Homo sapiens: one gene and its partners. The protein of the gene in region 3 purifies or fractionates together with the protein of the main gene of each other region. This does not show direct contact. Each region holds a gene or a part of one and is shown on either strand. Other genes may lie near its edges.

The links.
Region 1: the proteins of BPGM (region 3) and EIF1AX purify together in Homo sapiens (affinity purification with mass spectrometry, with the first as the bait; one large-scale study listed by BioGRID). This does not show direct contact.
Region 2: the proteins of BPGM (region 3) and HDLBP purify together in Homo sapiens (affinity purification with mass spectrometry, with the first as the bait; one large-scale study listed by BioGRID). This does not show direct contact.
Region 4: the proteins of BPGM (region 3) and NRBP1 purify together in Homo sapiens (affinity purification with mass spectrometry; 3 studies listed by BioGRID and IntAct, with this or other methods). This does not show direct contact.

Annotation. Positions count from the first base shown.
Region 1 is NC_000023.11:20,124,771-20,128,338, forward strand, and holds part of EIF1AX (eukaryotic translation initiation factor 1A, X-chromosomal), read right to left. Parts: intron 3,542-3,568; coding exon 3,536-3,541; 3' UTR 1-3,535. UniProt on the Homo sapiens protein: Component of the 43S pre-initiation complex (43S PIC), which binds to the mRNA cap-proximal region, scans mRNA 5'-untranslated region, and locates the initiation codon. This protein enhances formation of the cap-proximal complex.
Region 2 is NC_000002.12:241,235,622-241,239,189, forward strand, and holds part of HDLBP (vigilin), read right to left. Parts: intron 3,167-3,568; coding exon 3,028-3,166; intron 1,149-3,027; coding exon 994-1,148; intron 1-993. UniProt on the Homo sapiens protein: Appears to play a role in cell sterol metabolism. It may function to protect cells from over-accumulation of cholesterol.
Region 3 is NC_000007.14:134,653,296-134,656,863, reverse strand, and holds part of BPGM (bisphosphoglycerate mutase), read right to left. Parts: intron 1-3,568. UniProt on the Homo sapiens protein: Plays a major role in regulating hemoglobin oxygen affinity by controlling the levels of its allosteric effector 2,3-bisphosphoglycerate (2,3-BPG). Also exhibits mutase (EC 5.4.2.11) activity.
Region 4 is NC_000002.12:27,431,584-27,435,151, reverse strand, and holds part of NRBP1 (nuclear receptor-binding protein), read right to left. Parts: intron 1,904-3,568; exon of another isoform or gene 1,899-1,903; 5' UTR 1,879-1,898; coding exon 1,669-1,878; intron 1,480-1,668; coding exon 1,357-1,479; intron 1,164-1,356; coding exon 1,062-1,163; intron 682-1,061; coding exon 592-681; intron 431-591; coding exon 390-430; intron 20-389; coding exon 1-19. UniProt on the Homo sapiens protein: Required for embryonic development. Plays a role in intestinal epithelial cell fate and proliferation, thereby involved in the architectural development of the intestine potentially via the regulation of Wnt-responsive genes.

The DNA of each region.
Region 1 (3,568 bases), on a different chromosome or scaffold from region 3:
AATGAGAGACTTCATCTGTTAGTCTTATGCCAAATTAAATGAGTTTGGTAGCAATTTCAAATACTATGTTGACATGAATGTACAAATATACATTCTACGTGTTCCTTCTATTGTACGAATCAAAGACTGCACGCAAAAGAAATGGGAAATACAGAATACAGAAGACATGCACCTTCTATCTTACATAGTACTGGATATCAAGTGAAAAGAGCAGACACTGATCTAAGTACATTACATGTATAAACATCTAAATTATCAATCCTCCCAACAATTCTGCATGACAGGTACTGTTTTCATCATCCCCATCTTAGAGGTGAAGAACCTGAAGCTGAGACAAGCAGGAGAATGTGCCAGTGGTCACCTGCAGGTAGAGGGCCAAGTAAGGGTGGGGGCAAAGGCCCTTTGACCCCAGGATCCATGCTCTCCCCTCTCCAGTACACTGCCTCACAAGTACCTAGCAACTTGCAGGGCTAGGAGGGGGGAATAAGAGAGGACAAAGTCCAATACATTCTCCAAATTGCTCAGTTCATTCTATACCTGAGAGTCTTGTGTCTTTTCACATTTTGCTCTTTTCTGAATAGGAAGAAAAAAAGCAAAGATAAAAAGGATGGTAGTTTAGGGTAAACCAAAAACACAAAGCAGTGTGCAAAAGTTCATGGGAGTCCAAAGAGTATAAATAAAACTTACCCTTACGAAGTAGAATAAAGATAAGCATTTCATACCAATACAAATCATTTTCATCTTTATGACAGTCAGGTAACATCAAAAAAACCTTGCTTTCATTCTGATACTTTAGCTGTCAATCCAGTCAATACCGGTTGTTGTTAAGTCTGTATACAAGTAAAGTATAAATCTAGCTATTTTACTCAAAACATGCTTTTACCTATTTGATTACTCAGAGTTACTCTGAAATCAATAATGACAGCAGTTTATACCTATGGAAGATGTTACTGAACATCATAATCTAATATTTACATTAGATGAGATTAAGTTAAATTACAAGTCACAAAGAGTTTGTAAGCAAACATTTATAGCCATGATTCCACAGATGTGGTGAGTAAACCAACAGCCATTCCTAAATAAAATACAAGAATTTCCATCATGCATAGTTTACAGGCTTGGTAAGAAGCGGTCTCTTTAGGGGCCAGATGCTTAAGAAATATTCAACAAACAATGAAATCTTGGCTTTTTTTTTTTTTTACACAAATGTTTGGTTATTTAGCCACACTAGTGATAAAACATATTCATATTCTAACTGCAAGTGGAATAAACATTGCAACAAAAATGCAACCCAATCAAAATCATTAGTAATAACTATTACTCCCTCTTAGCAGTAAGAACCATTATTCTTGGATTTCAAACATTTTATTTTCTGTGCATAGCTTATAGCACTGTATTATAGGAATCAGAGTGTATAAGCAAAAAAATGAAAAATAAAACTTCTTGGAGACCATTTCCATTATTTATGATTAAATCAATGAAACTATACAATTTCCACATTAAATACAAATTAGTAGAAGAATTCCTCCAAGTAGTATTGCATATAAGCTACAACTTTACCCCAACTATTTTAATCACTATGATTCGAGATTTCCTAGGATTTAACAGCCCAAGATTGGGCTGTTACTACCTCAGCAAGAACAATCACCAGTAAATACATGAACTGGGGTTATAGCTGAATTTTTAGAAACTCTCCAGACAAACCACGTGTTAGAGGAGGTAAGTAGAAAAACTAATGTTTGAGCTGTGCTATTCCTACCAGGAACTATATCAAATATGCAAAGTTCAAACATTCTTAGTAAAATAATATGAAAGGATCTATATATACTGTAAATTTAGCAAAAACACTTTTATGTACAGAAGCCTAAATATCTTAGGAGGTTTAGAATACCAATGAAGAGAATTGTTAATTCTTCAAGGCTGGTTTCTTATGAGGATTAAAAACCAGCCCTTAGTCTCAGATGCATTCCACCTAGATGTGTTCACGAACTCCATAGAATAAGAAATATAAACCATGAATACGTACTCTTAATTTCCATTCTTCAACTTAATGTTCTATAGTACTTCAGATTTTTAAATCCAGAGTTTGGTGTACACTTAGGAAATTATAGTAAGAGTAGATTAGAGAAGATTTGCTTGTTTTCCTTTTGAAGCCATGTGAAGGTTTATTACCCTGTGTATTTTCATCACTGAAAAGTTCCCCGGTGACTAATAAAATAAAAGTGTCACAAGCTACATGATGGATCTCTTCTTTTAATGTTGCATAGAGTTTCAGTTTGGCTAGTGAGGGCTAACTAGCTCAGCCCTAGTTTCATTTTATTAGAGTTGACCACTAAAAACTAAATAAGGAAGTTACCAGTAAAGCTAATTCCCAATACAAGCAAAAAACAAAAACAAAAAACAAAAACAAAACCATTCACATAATAAAATATATCCTTAACACAAAATAAGGGTATAACATATTCTGCAGCATGACATTTTATTTTATTTCTCAGCTGTAGCTTTTTCATTCAGAAACTGGAGACCATCTTTTCACTGAGTTGTTATTCCTTCCTCTTCCCTTAGCTTAGGGATATGTTGAAAAAGGCTTTTCAACAAGTATTTTATTTTTTACAAGTTGCTATGAAATTAAAATTTATATATATATCTTAAGTGTTTATAAAGCACTCAAAATTGTAGCTTACATGTATATGACTTCTGAAAATAAAAATCACACTTCTAACATAATCTTTCTGCTCTGCAAAAATATTCTACATACATGCATATGATCAAAACAATCTTTTCATGTTTGGGGTATTTCTTACACATAGTAAAAGAAAAGTCAACAATTGTATCAGTACTTCCCCTGTTAAGATAACTGAGTGCCACCTAGTGTTCAATTTCTGCAACTACTAAGCTTACAAATTCAATACTGCTATTAAAACCCAGGTTCTGAAAACGGCATTTTGGAAATCTTTTTTTTTTTTTTTATGTTTACGGTGGCAAAATACGACTATGAAAAGAACATGATATCAAAATCAGTATAAAAATAGCCACAGGCTACTTAAATATGACAAACAGACTTATTTTTTTTCTTCAACTGCAGACTTCTGCCTCCCTCAAATTGTATCAAAATCTCAAGGGAATATCTAGGTAACTGGAATATACACAATGACTCTATACAATCAAGAGGCCAGGGCTTAATCAGATTCCGTGAGGACAAGGCAAATGATTTCTTCAAAACACCCATTTTCTTACTGGAAGTGGTAGGAAAAGCAGCAATGCATGGTTTTTTTTTTTTTTTGTAATTAGTAGACATGGTCTTCTACCCATAAGCTCCATTACATTAAAAGAACAAAGTGGGCTTAACATCTCACTTAAGATAATTCAGCATTATTATCAGTTTTAAAAAAACCAAAAATATCTTAGAAACAAATCAGTCTGCTTTAACAAATTGCATTCATGCTAATGAAATTTTAATCTTCTTTGTCATGATCAAAATCCAAATTGTAGGACAATCTTCAGAAAAGATGGAATGTAAAATGTTGAGTTCAATTTAGATCTGGAAGGGAAAAGAACATCAGATGAA
Region 2 (3,568 bases), on a different chromosome or scaffold from region 3:
CGTGGGAGCTGAGAGCAGAGTGACGTTGTAAGCTCAGCAATGGGGCTCCACGAAACACAAGGCAAACAGCCCTATGACAACAGCAATGTGCCCCACCCGACAATGCCACCAGGACCTTTAACTCAATAGAAAAGAATAGGAAAAGATTTGCATTAGGCTAATGCTGGCAGACAGAAATTCCAGACCCTTCATCCCAAGCCTACCCTCCTGAATTACAGCAGCCCCTTCAGGCCCACGTAGGAGGAGAGGCCCTGACTCCTGGCACATCCTCGGGGTCATGACGGCTTTGACCGATGCCCATGAGGTGCCACAAGGGACTCTCGGACCACTACTCACCTTCCCTGCCCTGTCCCTTGGGATCAGGACGGCTTTGGCTAATGCCCACGAGGTGCCACAAGGGACTCTCAGACCGCTGCTCACCTTCCCTGCCCTGTCTCCCCCACCGCCCTTCACCTCCAGAACCTGCTTTCTTGCCACAGCATTTACCATCACTTGCCACAGGATATATCTGCGTTGACTGCTTGTCTCTCCACGGCAACGTGAGAACTATTTTTGTGTGCTGTGGCACCGCAGCACTGAGAGCAGCATCCAGTACGCAGGTGGCACTCGACACTGACTGCACACAAGGTGAGCTAGGCCTGATAACCCCACTCACGCGGGGGGAGACGTTGCAACTGGAGGTCACATTCATCCCCCTGCAGCTGAGACCCTTCCACAGCCCCCGCACCCACCGTGGGCCTGAGAGGCCGGATCCCATGCAGCTGTCCCAGAAAGGGGCTATAGAACCCCGAGCCTTGGTGAAGGGAAGTGGCCTCCCCAAACTCTGTGTCCAGCCGAGAAGCACAGCCCGTGCGCACACGGTAGGAGCAAGAGGGCTACCTCCACTGCCACTGCCGCTTGGGCAACCGTCCATCCCATCCAGGCCACGCGTCTCCCCAGGTGCCTGCTGACTGGGCCTTGGCGGGGGGTGGAGGGGGGCACATGGACACATACCTCCAGAGCTTCCTTGGCAGCCTCACACTTTTCTTTCCGGCCAGAGATGATGATGATGTCACACCTCCTTGGAGAGCCGGGGTCACAATCTTTAGCCTCTCTCCCCTCCCCAGCTTCGTCCCCATTCTCCTGGACAACTGGCTCTGTACTGTGAACTAGAGAGAAAGGGGAAAAGGGACAGCTGACAGCTGCTGGAAGAGACCCCACACCTTGTTCAGAATGCATATGTCTGTGAGGCACCTGCTGGGTGCTGGGTGGTAAAAGGGAGGGAAAACCACTCCTGTCCTTCAGGAGGTCTTGGTCTGGTCAGGGAGAGCAGATAGGACGTCCCCACAGCAGCCTCAAAGAGGGCTCCCAGACCTTGGGGGGGGGGGGGGGGGCGGCAATGAAGGCTTTGCCGGGAGGCCGTGAGCTCTGTGTCTCCCTTCTTCACCTTGAAGATGAAGCTAACAGCAACTAACTACAGCAGAGGCTTCAGTGAGATCAGATGAGTTAGTTCATGGGAGGAACACAGGGCAGACCCACTGCACAAGTGAGGCTTGACTGTGAGGCAGGGCTCATCAGGGAAGGCGGCCAGCACGCAGCCCCACCCAGGAGAGGCAGTGGGAAGGGGGGTGAGAGGTCTAGGGGAGACAGAAAGGGCAAGGCCAAGGTAAACCTGTGCCAGCTCCTTATGCCAGAAAGCGAGAGCCCCAGAAGTGAAGAGGCGTGTGAACAGGACACAGAAGACAGCTGGAGGGGCTCCTACAGGCCACACTGGGACACCGCGTGTGTACCAAAATAGACACCACAACAATAAGTGTCACAAAACAGACACAACAATAATTATCACTAAGACAGAACCCAGGAGGTGTGTGATGTAAATAAATGAGCAGGAGACCAGACAGACGCCTGCCTGAAATCAAGGGTGATCCTAGGATGGGGAAGTAGGTGTTTCTGAAGGAGAAAAACTGGCAAATTTGAATACCGACAACATATTAGATACTACTGTTATATAATGTTAAATCCGATTCCGATAAATGTGCTAGAATTATGTAAGAGAATGTCCTTGTTCTAAGAAAATACCCACCATGAATAAAGGGACATGTCTAAAAATGACATTCAGAAAAAAAACGTGTGTAAAAGGGGAGAAGTTGAGAAAAGAAACTGGTGCCACAGGATGTGTCTTTATACTATTCTGTGAAATTCTATCAAAATCAAAGTTTTAAATAACCACTGAAGTGTAAAACATAGACAGAGTGCAGTATGAGTTTATTAGTTTCCTACTCAAAACACCCTGTATTCTCAGGAAAACAAAGGGGCTTGAATGGCTGTGTGTGACATGCTTCCTGGATGCCCAGAGAGATGACACTATGTGCACTCAGCAGGCTGCAGGGCCACCTGCCGCCCAAACAGCTCAACCAAGACTGATAACACAGAGTGGAGGGCGGGCATCTGATAACACAGAGTGGAGGGCATACCTTTTGTTTCACAAATGCAGAGCAAGTGAGAGAGAGGCAACCGACCCGCATCCCACAGGTCGCCTCCCCACCACCAGGTGCATGAGCAGAGCTGGGGGCAAGCATGGTACGGGGAACTGAATGCTCTCCTAGAACTGCCGGCCACTTGGATGGTGCCCTCTGGCCAGCCAGAGGCTGCAGCTGCCTGCCTCACAGGGGACACCCCACAGTGATGGGAGATGTGGAGGAGGAAGCTCTACGACGGGGCTCATGCGATCCAAACGATGTCATGAGAATCACTGGGACTGAACTCGGGACACCCGAGGATGAGGCTGCACGCTCCTCATCGCCTTGGGACTGGCTACCTTGTGTGTCTCTAGGACCTATGAAGGTCACCTGGTCACTCTGTCAGTAACTGACGTGGTCCATCTTTTAAAGGCCAGGGAGTGACCCTGAACCTCTGGAAGCCCCCAGAATACATAGATGGTTTTCCAGCAGAGACAGGAAAGAGCCTCACCAGTATGTGCGACAGCCCCGCCTCTCACATGGGAGGCGCCACTATTAACAAGCAGAGCAGGGCTAATGGGGGACCCACCTGCGTTCTCCTCTCTGTCTGGGAATTTAATTTGAACACTGAAATCCCGAGTAATCTGCTGGATTCTGGAACCTTTGGGGCCCATGACAGATCGATGGAATTTCTGGGGTATAGCACATTCTAATGTCACCTGAGCTTCCTGGAGGGAGGTACACAAAGAAAAAAGAAAAGAGCAAAGATTAAATTCCTTAGGGCAAGTTTTACAGCACTCTTCACACCACCTTCCTCCCTGTCCTCTACAGCCACTTGGCACAGATGCTCCCCTTCTCCCGAGTCCAGGGCTCCAGGCGCAGGGAGGAGGGAGGTAGCAGGACAGGTCTAAGGGGGTGGGCCTCCTCTGAAATGTGTCCCAGAAGGCCAGGTGCCATCCCTGGAGGGTGGCCAATTCAGCCAAAGGAGTGGGACCTCCTGGGGTAGCCTCTGACTCCATGAGGAGGCATCAGACTTGATTATTAGGGAAAGGGAATCCAAGGCCCTGGCAGGGGAGTGGCCTGGAGGGGACACTCTCTAAAGACTGCTTCTAAAGACCACGTCTTCTCAT
Region 3 (3,568 bases):
GGGTTGATGCTGAAATGAGCTAAGACTTTGGGCGACTGTTGGAAAGGGCATGATTATGTTTTGAAATGAGAGGACATGAGATTTGGGAGGGGCCAAGACCAAATTTCATCTTGAATTGTAGTTCCCATAATCCCCATGTGTCATGGGAGGGACCCAGTGGGAGGTAATTGATTCATGGGGACAGTTACCCTCATGCTGTTCTTATGATAGAAAGTGAGTTCTCACGAGGTCTGATGGTTTTATAAGGAGCTTTGCCCCCACTTCACTTATACTTCTCCTTGCTGCCACCATGTGAAGAAGGACATGTTTGCTTCCCTTCCACCATGATTGTAAGTTTCCTGAGGCCTCTCCAGCCATGCTGAACTGTGAATCATTTAAACCTCTTTCCTTTATAAAATTACCCAGTCTCTGATATGTCTTTATTAGCAGCATGAGAACTAATACAATTCTAACACATGATCCATACAAAAATTATTAATAAGGCAATTTACATTCTTTTTTTTCACAGTATGTCTTTGGAATCTGGTGTGTACTTTATAATGAAAGCATATCTCAATGTGAACCAGCCACATTTCAAGTGCTCCATAGCCACATGTGACCAGTGGCTACCGCACTAGATCATGCAGCTTTAGAGCTCAGCTTAAATGTTAGTTCCTGTAGGCCAGTGGTTCTCAAACTTTAATGTATATCAAAATCAAATTAAACAGATTGCTTGGGCCCACTTCCAGAGCTTGATTTAGTAGGTCTGGGGTGGGACTGTGAATATGCATTTCTAGCAAGTCCTCAGGTGATGGTGACATGGCTGGTCCAAGGACCATGTTTTGAGAACCCCTGGCTTTAGACTTCCTCTTCACCCATTGGGAAGTAGGTCAGGCCTGCTGACCTACTCCTGTAGCATCCCGCTTAACCACATTTGGTGCACTTGCGATGGATCCCTTGAGATATATTACCTGTTCAATGGCTATGTGCCCTGTAAGACTGTAAGCTGCATCAAGGCAGGTCTTACTGCTGTATCTCTAGAACCTAGCACATCGCTTGGCACATATGAGGCACTCAGTAGGTGTACTGACTGAACCAAAGTCAGACAGAAATGACTGGATTGTACACATGAGACTAAGGCTTGAGAGTTTTAGTGGTAACTGCCACAGTAAAATCAGTTGGCAGGGCTAAGATGTTAGGAAACTTTAACTTAAGAATCTCAGGGTATTTATGTCAAAACAGGAGCCAAGAATAATTATCCATTATAGTTCTGTACTTTGTACTTTTGTACTATAAGTTTAGTATGTTCATGGATGGCCATAATCTCCACAGAAAAAAATGGAGATTCTGATTGACTTGTTCAAAAACATATGGCCAGTAAATGGCAAACTGGAACTGCAACCCTGGTCTTCTGCCTTCAACCCCCCACTGGAGATATTAGAGTCATGGTTTGAGGATCTTGGCTCACTTGGCTTCACTTCACAGGGGTATCTCCAGTTCCAACTTGTCCTTCCAAACCCAGGCAGCCATTTCATCAAACGCAAACGAACAAGGTGAACATGAAGGAGGGCTCACCTTATTAGTACTCTTGAGAAAAACCTCAAGGCACAAAGTAAGCCAGGCAATAGTCACCCCAACTTATAAAGAGGAACCTTACTAAGAATAAATACTCCCCATCCCAAATTAAAAACTATTCCTTTTCAACCTCAAGCTTTATTTTTTTTGTTTTGTTTTGTTTTTCATAAAAGCTCACCAACCTGTACCTGGTTTCTCATTTATCCCATAGCAAAAGTTACTGGCACTTAAGTACCGATTTTAATCAATAATTTACATCATGTCAAAAAAAGAACACATAGGTTATTGATTTATCCCCCAGGGTGTCTTCCTTTTTAAAGTGTGATCTGGCTTGAAGAAAAAGTTTACTAAGGAAACATCTTTTACACAGCTGTGTATCTTATCCTCCCTCCCCTTCCTCTTGTCCATTTACCTTCCCTTCTAGCCATTCCTTTTTTAGTTTCCTGACACCAAACTTGTGCCTTACCCACTCTACTGAAATGGTGCCTCAAAAGACTACAGGTTAGTTACTTCTTACTAAGTGGAGATCATCTTCTCTCATGACTTCTCTAAAACAGACTACTTCCATCAAGAAAAAAAACCCACTAAGATTTTGGTGTAGCATTTCCTCCAGCTCTTCCACGGTTACATCTTGGTCTTGGGTGTCTGCATTTTCTTACCTACCTGTAAGAGTACTATGAAGATGATCATATTAGTCACAGTAGCCAACATTCACAGAGTGCTCACCTGTGAATGTTAGTTCAATGTTACTTGGCACTGTTTGAATCCTCAACCACCATTCCATGGAGTGGCTACTATGATTACTCCCATTTCACAGATGAAGAAACAGGAGGAAAGGTTAACTTGCCTAAGGTAACAGAGGCTGTAAATGGCAGAGCTGGAATTTAGTCTCGAGAAGTCTGTATCTATGCCCTGAACCATTTTGCTACACTGTCACATTGAAACCTGAGGCTCAGTCTTCAGTTCTTGGAAACCCTTTTCTCACTGCTTTAATCACATTAAAATGGATGACTCATAAATTGAAAGCCCCAAATACTCAGTCGCCCTAGCCTGACCAATTAATTCATTCTTCAAACATTTTGCAGATCCCATTTAGGCATGGCCCAATGCTAGGCCTATGAGGAATATGTAATCCAACAAGAATTATGTCTTCATCTTCAGTACGTGTGTGTGTGTGTGTGTACCTAAAACTCAAAGTAATTCACACCATGAGAAAGCACTTCATTAGTAAAAGAGAGGTGGGATGGGAGAGAATATTTCTGAGTAAGGCTTCGTGGACACAGTATTTTTTAAGCTGGATTTGGAAAGGCAAGGTTTAGATTTACAGAAAAAAGTAAAGGAATTCCAATCTAGGGGAACAGTGAGTGAAGGCAAAGGAACAGGTACATATGGAAAATGGCGAGCCCATTCAAACTGGTTGGAGTATAGCTAGAGTAACCATACATCCTGATTTGCCTAATAGGCAAAAAATATTCTTTCCATAAATGCCACCATAAAATTGAAGTTATGGTTCAAGATTAGCATTCTTTTGGCAAGGTCAAGACAGAGAGGGTAGTTAGGAGAAAGAGGCACATGCATCATTATTACAGAACAGTATTGTCTTAGGCCTGTTTCCCCAACATAATTACTACTAGGGCCCCTTTCACACTTAAGTGTCCCATTTGGAAAATTATATGGCCACTGTAAGTATAGGGTATAATAAGGAAGCAGGAGAAGACTAGCCTAGAAAGATAAGAAAAAATAGTGACACAAAAAAAGCCTGTGCCAAAGCATGTAGGTTTTTCTATACATATTGGGACATCATTAAAAGTTTAGTAGCATGCATTTTAGCAGGATCAGGCAGCACTTACTTACAGAAATAGACAGGAAAACCCAGGAGTATGAACACTAGCTGAGAGGTTTTTGCAATAATTCTGGTAACACAGAATAAAGACTTGGACCAGGACAATGGCCGTTTAAGTGAGATGAAGGAGATAAACGTGAAAGACACTATAGCTTAGCTCAGATGTTAGCA
Region 4 (3,568 bases), on a different chromosome or scaffold from region 3:
GTCACAGGAGTGCAGGTAGCTGTGGGGGCACTGGGCTGTTAGAGGGGCCACTGGGAAATTAAGGGCAGGGGGAACCCAAGGGTTAAGAGGAGCAAGGGCCAGGTCTCCTGCTGGTCACCATAAAGATAATCCCCACACTCTGAATCTCCATTATGCCTGATGATTTAAATAGCTGGATAAGCACTAGGAGAAAGAGGTAGGAGATAAGTGTCGTGGTTAGGGCATTAGGACGCACCCTTTAAAAGACCCGTAGGGGCCCTAATCTTGACAGTATATGATTCAAAGAAAGTGGGGAGAGGCAGAATAGAACAGAAGAGTAGTGCCCTGAAATCTGTTTGGAGTAACTACATCAGGAAATATGGGTAAGAAACTAACCAGGTACTACTTACCTTAGGGCAGAGAGGATTTGTGTGCACCAACGCTTCCATGCCTGGAACAAAGTTGGATCCAAGGGTCAGCAGTAATTCCCTCTCTTAACTCTCTCCCACTAGCTCCTTCCGTCCCTTCCTGATCAGCTTCATTATTAACAGAGTCCTTTTTAAAACCACCCCCAAAAACCAGCCTCAAACTTTGTCTGCTCTCCTTCTATACCTTTTCATTCATCGTCTTGTGGTTCTTTTTGGTCTTCTTCAGAAATTGCTTCAGACTCCCAGATGACATGTATTCTGTGATAAAAATGACCTGGGGAGGCAAAGCACTTACTAAAAGGCCTTATAGTAGAAATGATCCCTTCCCTTGTTAACATATTTTAAATTTGAAGGTTTGTTAAAATTTCTCTCCTTTTGTTCTTAGCTTTACTTACTTAGACTAAATAGGGCAATGAAAACAAGCAATGAAAGTTATGGGAAGAAAGAAGCAAAAGTTCACTCATTTTCTGCCCAATCTATAGCCACACAAAAGGCATAGGTGACAACTGAAGCCCTACTCTTATCGCCATTGCAGCTGATTCCAGTTCTGTTTCAAAACTACCTTGTTTTAATCTCTGAGTGTAAAAGGAACAATAATAAATGTAGCTAGTCTCTTTGCAATAAGTTCAGGAAATATGGGGAAAAAATTCTTACCCTGGCCTTGTTCTCTTTAATGTCAGCCCAATATTTGTGAAACTTAACAATGTTAAGATGCTCCAATTGAATCAGATTATCAAACACAGCACGAACCTTTTCCTGAAAGCAAGGGAGACAGTGGAATAACAGAGTCACAAATCACTGTAATAATCCTGAGAAGCCATTCCCTATCCCTCCCCAGAAACGATCTAACCCCAACATACTCTCCTCACGGGCAGCTTCCCAACACCAATTCCTCTCTAACATCAGTGTTCCAACATTCCCCAGGCTTCACCTTTTCAGCATCACCTACCTCCTGCAGCTTGTAGTTCTTGCGTTCAGAGAACTGTACCTCATTCCACACAACCTCTACACCTTCCTCTGTATCCATGGCCAGGTATGCACTGTCAATACCTGGTACATTCCGTTGATTCACCTGAGAAGAAATTCATATGAAAGAGAATTAAACTTATCTCACAAATCCTCCATTTTAACACTCCATATGATCATCTCCTCCTAGCCCCCAACCTATTGAAGTTTGGTTGGCCTCTTTTAAGACTTTGCTCTTCCAGTTCTCACCTTTCCAGAATTCACTCACCCAAGAGTAACTGTACCATAACCTTACCTCTTCTCGCCTCTTCTGCCAGCGCCCACAGGGCGACTCTTCCAAAATCTCAGACTCATCTTCACTTTCTTCTTCTTCCTCTGGGGAAGCAGCTGAGGTTGTGGAGGTCACAGGAGGTGACACTGATGTCAGGCCAGGAGCTGAAGATGAGGATTCTACCTTTGGGTCTGAGCCACTGCTAAGTACTGTCTGGGACTCCCCCTCCGACATGCTGGAAGGAACACTCAGGCCTGCACTGGTTGGGGCAAATACAGAGGGAAAAGGCAGAGAAAGTCAGGATACATCTGTAAAGATTTAGTAATCCAGGCTGGACGTGGTGGCTCATGCCTGTAATCCCAGCACTTTGGGAGGCTGAGGTGGGCAGATCACCTGAGGTCAGGAGTTCAAGACCAGCCTGATCAACATGGTGAAACCCCATCTCTACTAAAAATACAAAATTAGCTGGGTGTGGTGACGCGTGCCTGTAGTCCTAGCTACTCAGGAGACTAAGGCAGGAGAATTTTTTTGAACCAGGGAGGTGGAGGTTGCAGTGAGCTGAGATCACGCCACTGCACTCCAGCCTGGGTGACAGAGCAAGACCCCATCTCAAAAAAAAATTTAGTAATCCAGCTGAGCACAGTGGCTCACCTCTGTAATCCCAGCACTTTGAGAAGCCGAGGCAAGAGGTTCATTTGAGGCCAGGTGTTTGAGACCAGCCTGGGCAACAAAGTGAGACCCCATCTTTACAAAAAAATTTAAAAATTAGCAGGGCAAGGTGGTACACAGCTATAGTCCCAGCTACCCGAGAGGCTGATGGGAGAATCACTTGATTGCCCAGGAGTTTGAGGCTGCAGTGAGCTATGATCATGCCATTGGCTAGGCAACAGAGGGAGACCCTGTCTCAACAAAAAACAAACAAACAAAAAAAAAGATTTAATAATCCTAATACTTATCTGCAAATTCAAAAGAAAATAAAACAGGCCAGGCATTTGAGACCAGCCTGGACAACATAAAAAGACCCCAGTCTCTACACAAAACTTTTAAAAATTAAAAATAGAAAACACACACCACCTTTGTTTCCTTTAAATCCAAAATCAGAATCAGTCCTAAATACTGAAACATTAACTATTCTCCTAACTCTAGTCTAGAAAAGGGGAGCTATCTTAGTTGAAGATGACCCTCCCAGGAATGACAAACACAAGATTTATGGCAGTCTAATCCCACTTAGAGTAAGGTTCAAATCACCAGCAAAATCAGGTGCTCCATTCCTTCTTGGCAAATACTCATCCAATAGGCTTCCCTTTGAATCCCCAAGTACACCCTATTTTTACTGTGCTCAAGAATTAAGCTATGTGTGGACGGGCACAGTGGCTCACGCCTTTAATCCCAACACTTTGGGAGGCCGAGGTAGGTGGATTACCTGAGGTCAGGAGTTCGAGACCAGCCTGACCAACATGGCAAAACCCTGTCTCTACTAAAAATAAAAAAATTAGCTGGGTGTGGTGGCACGCACCTGTAGTCCCAGCTACTCAGGAGGCTGAGGCAGGAGAATCACTTGAACCCGGGAGGCAGAGGTTGCAGTGAGCTGAGATCGTGCCACTGCACTCCAGCTTGGGCAACAGAGTGAGACTCTGTCTCAAAAAATAAAAAAATATAAACTATGTGGGCGCTATTCAGAACAGATGACTCCAGACTCCAAAATGTTTCAGTGAGACAGCCTTAAGGCTAGACCTGTAGCACCCTCAGCCAACTTATCCAGCTGAAACCCTTGGCTAATTTATCCAGCTAGAACTAACCTTGGCATTCACTATCCATCCCTTCTCTACACAGAACAAGCCCACTAGTCCATGGTGAGGCTACCCTTGGGGCACATGACTGGCAGTTGTTAGTGACTTCATCCCTGATGACCTCACCTTTCCTG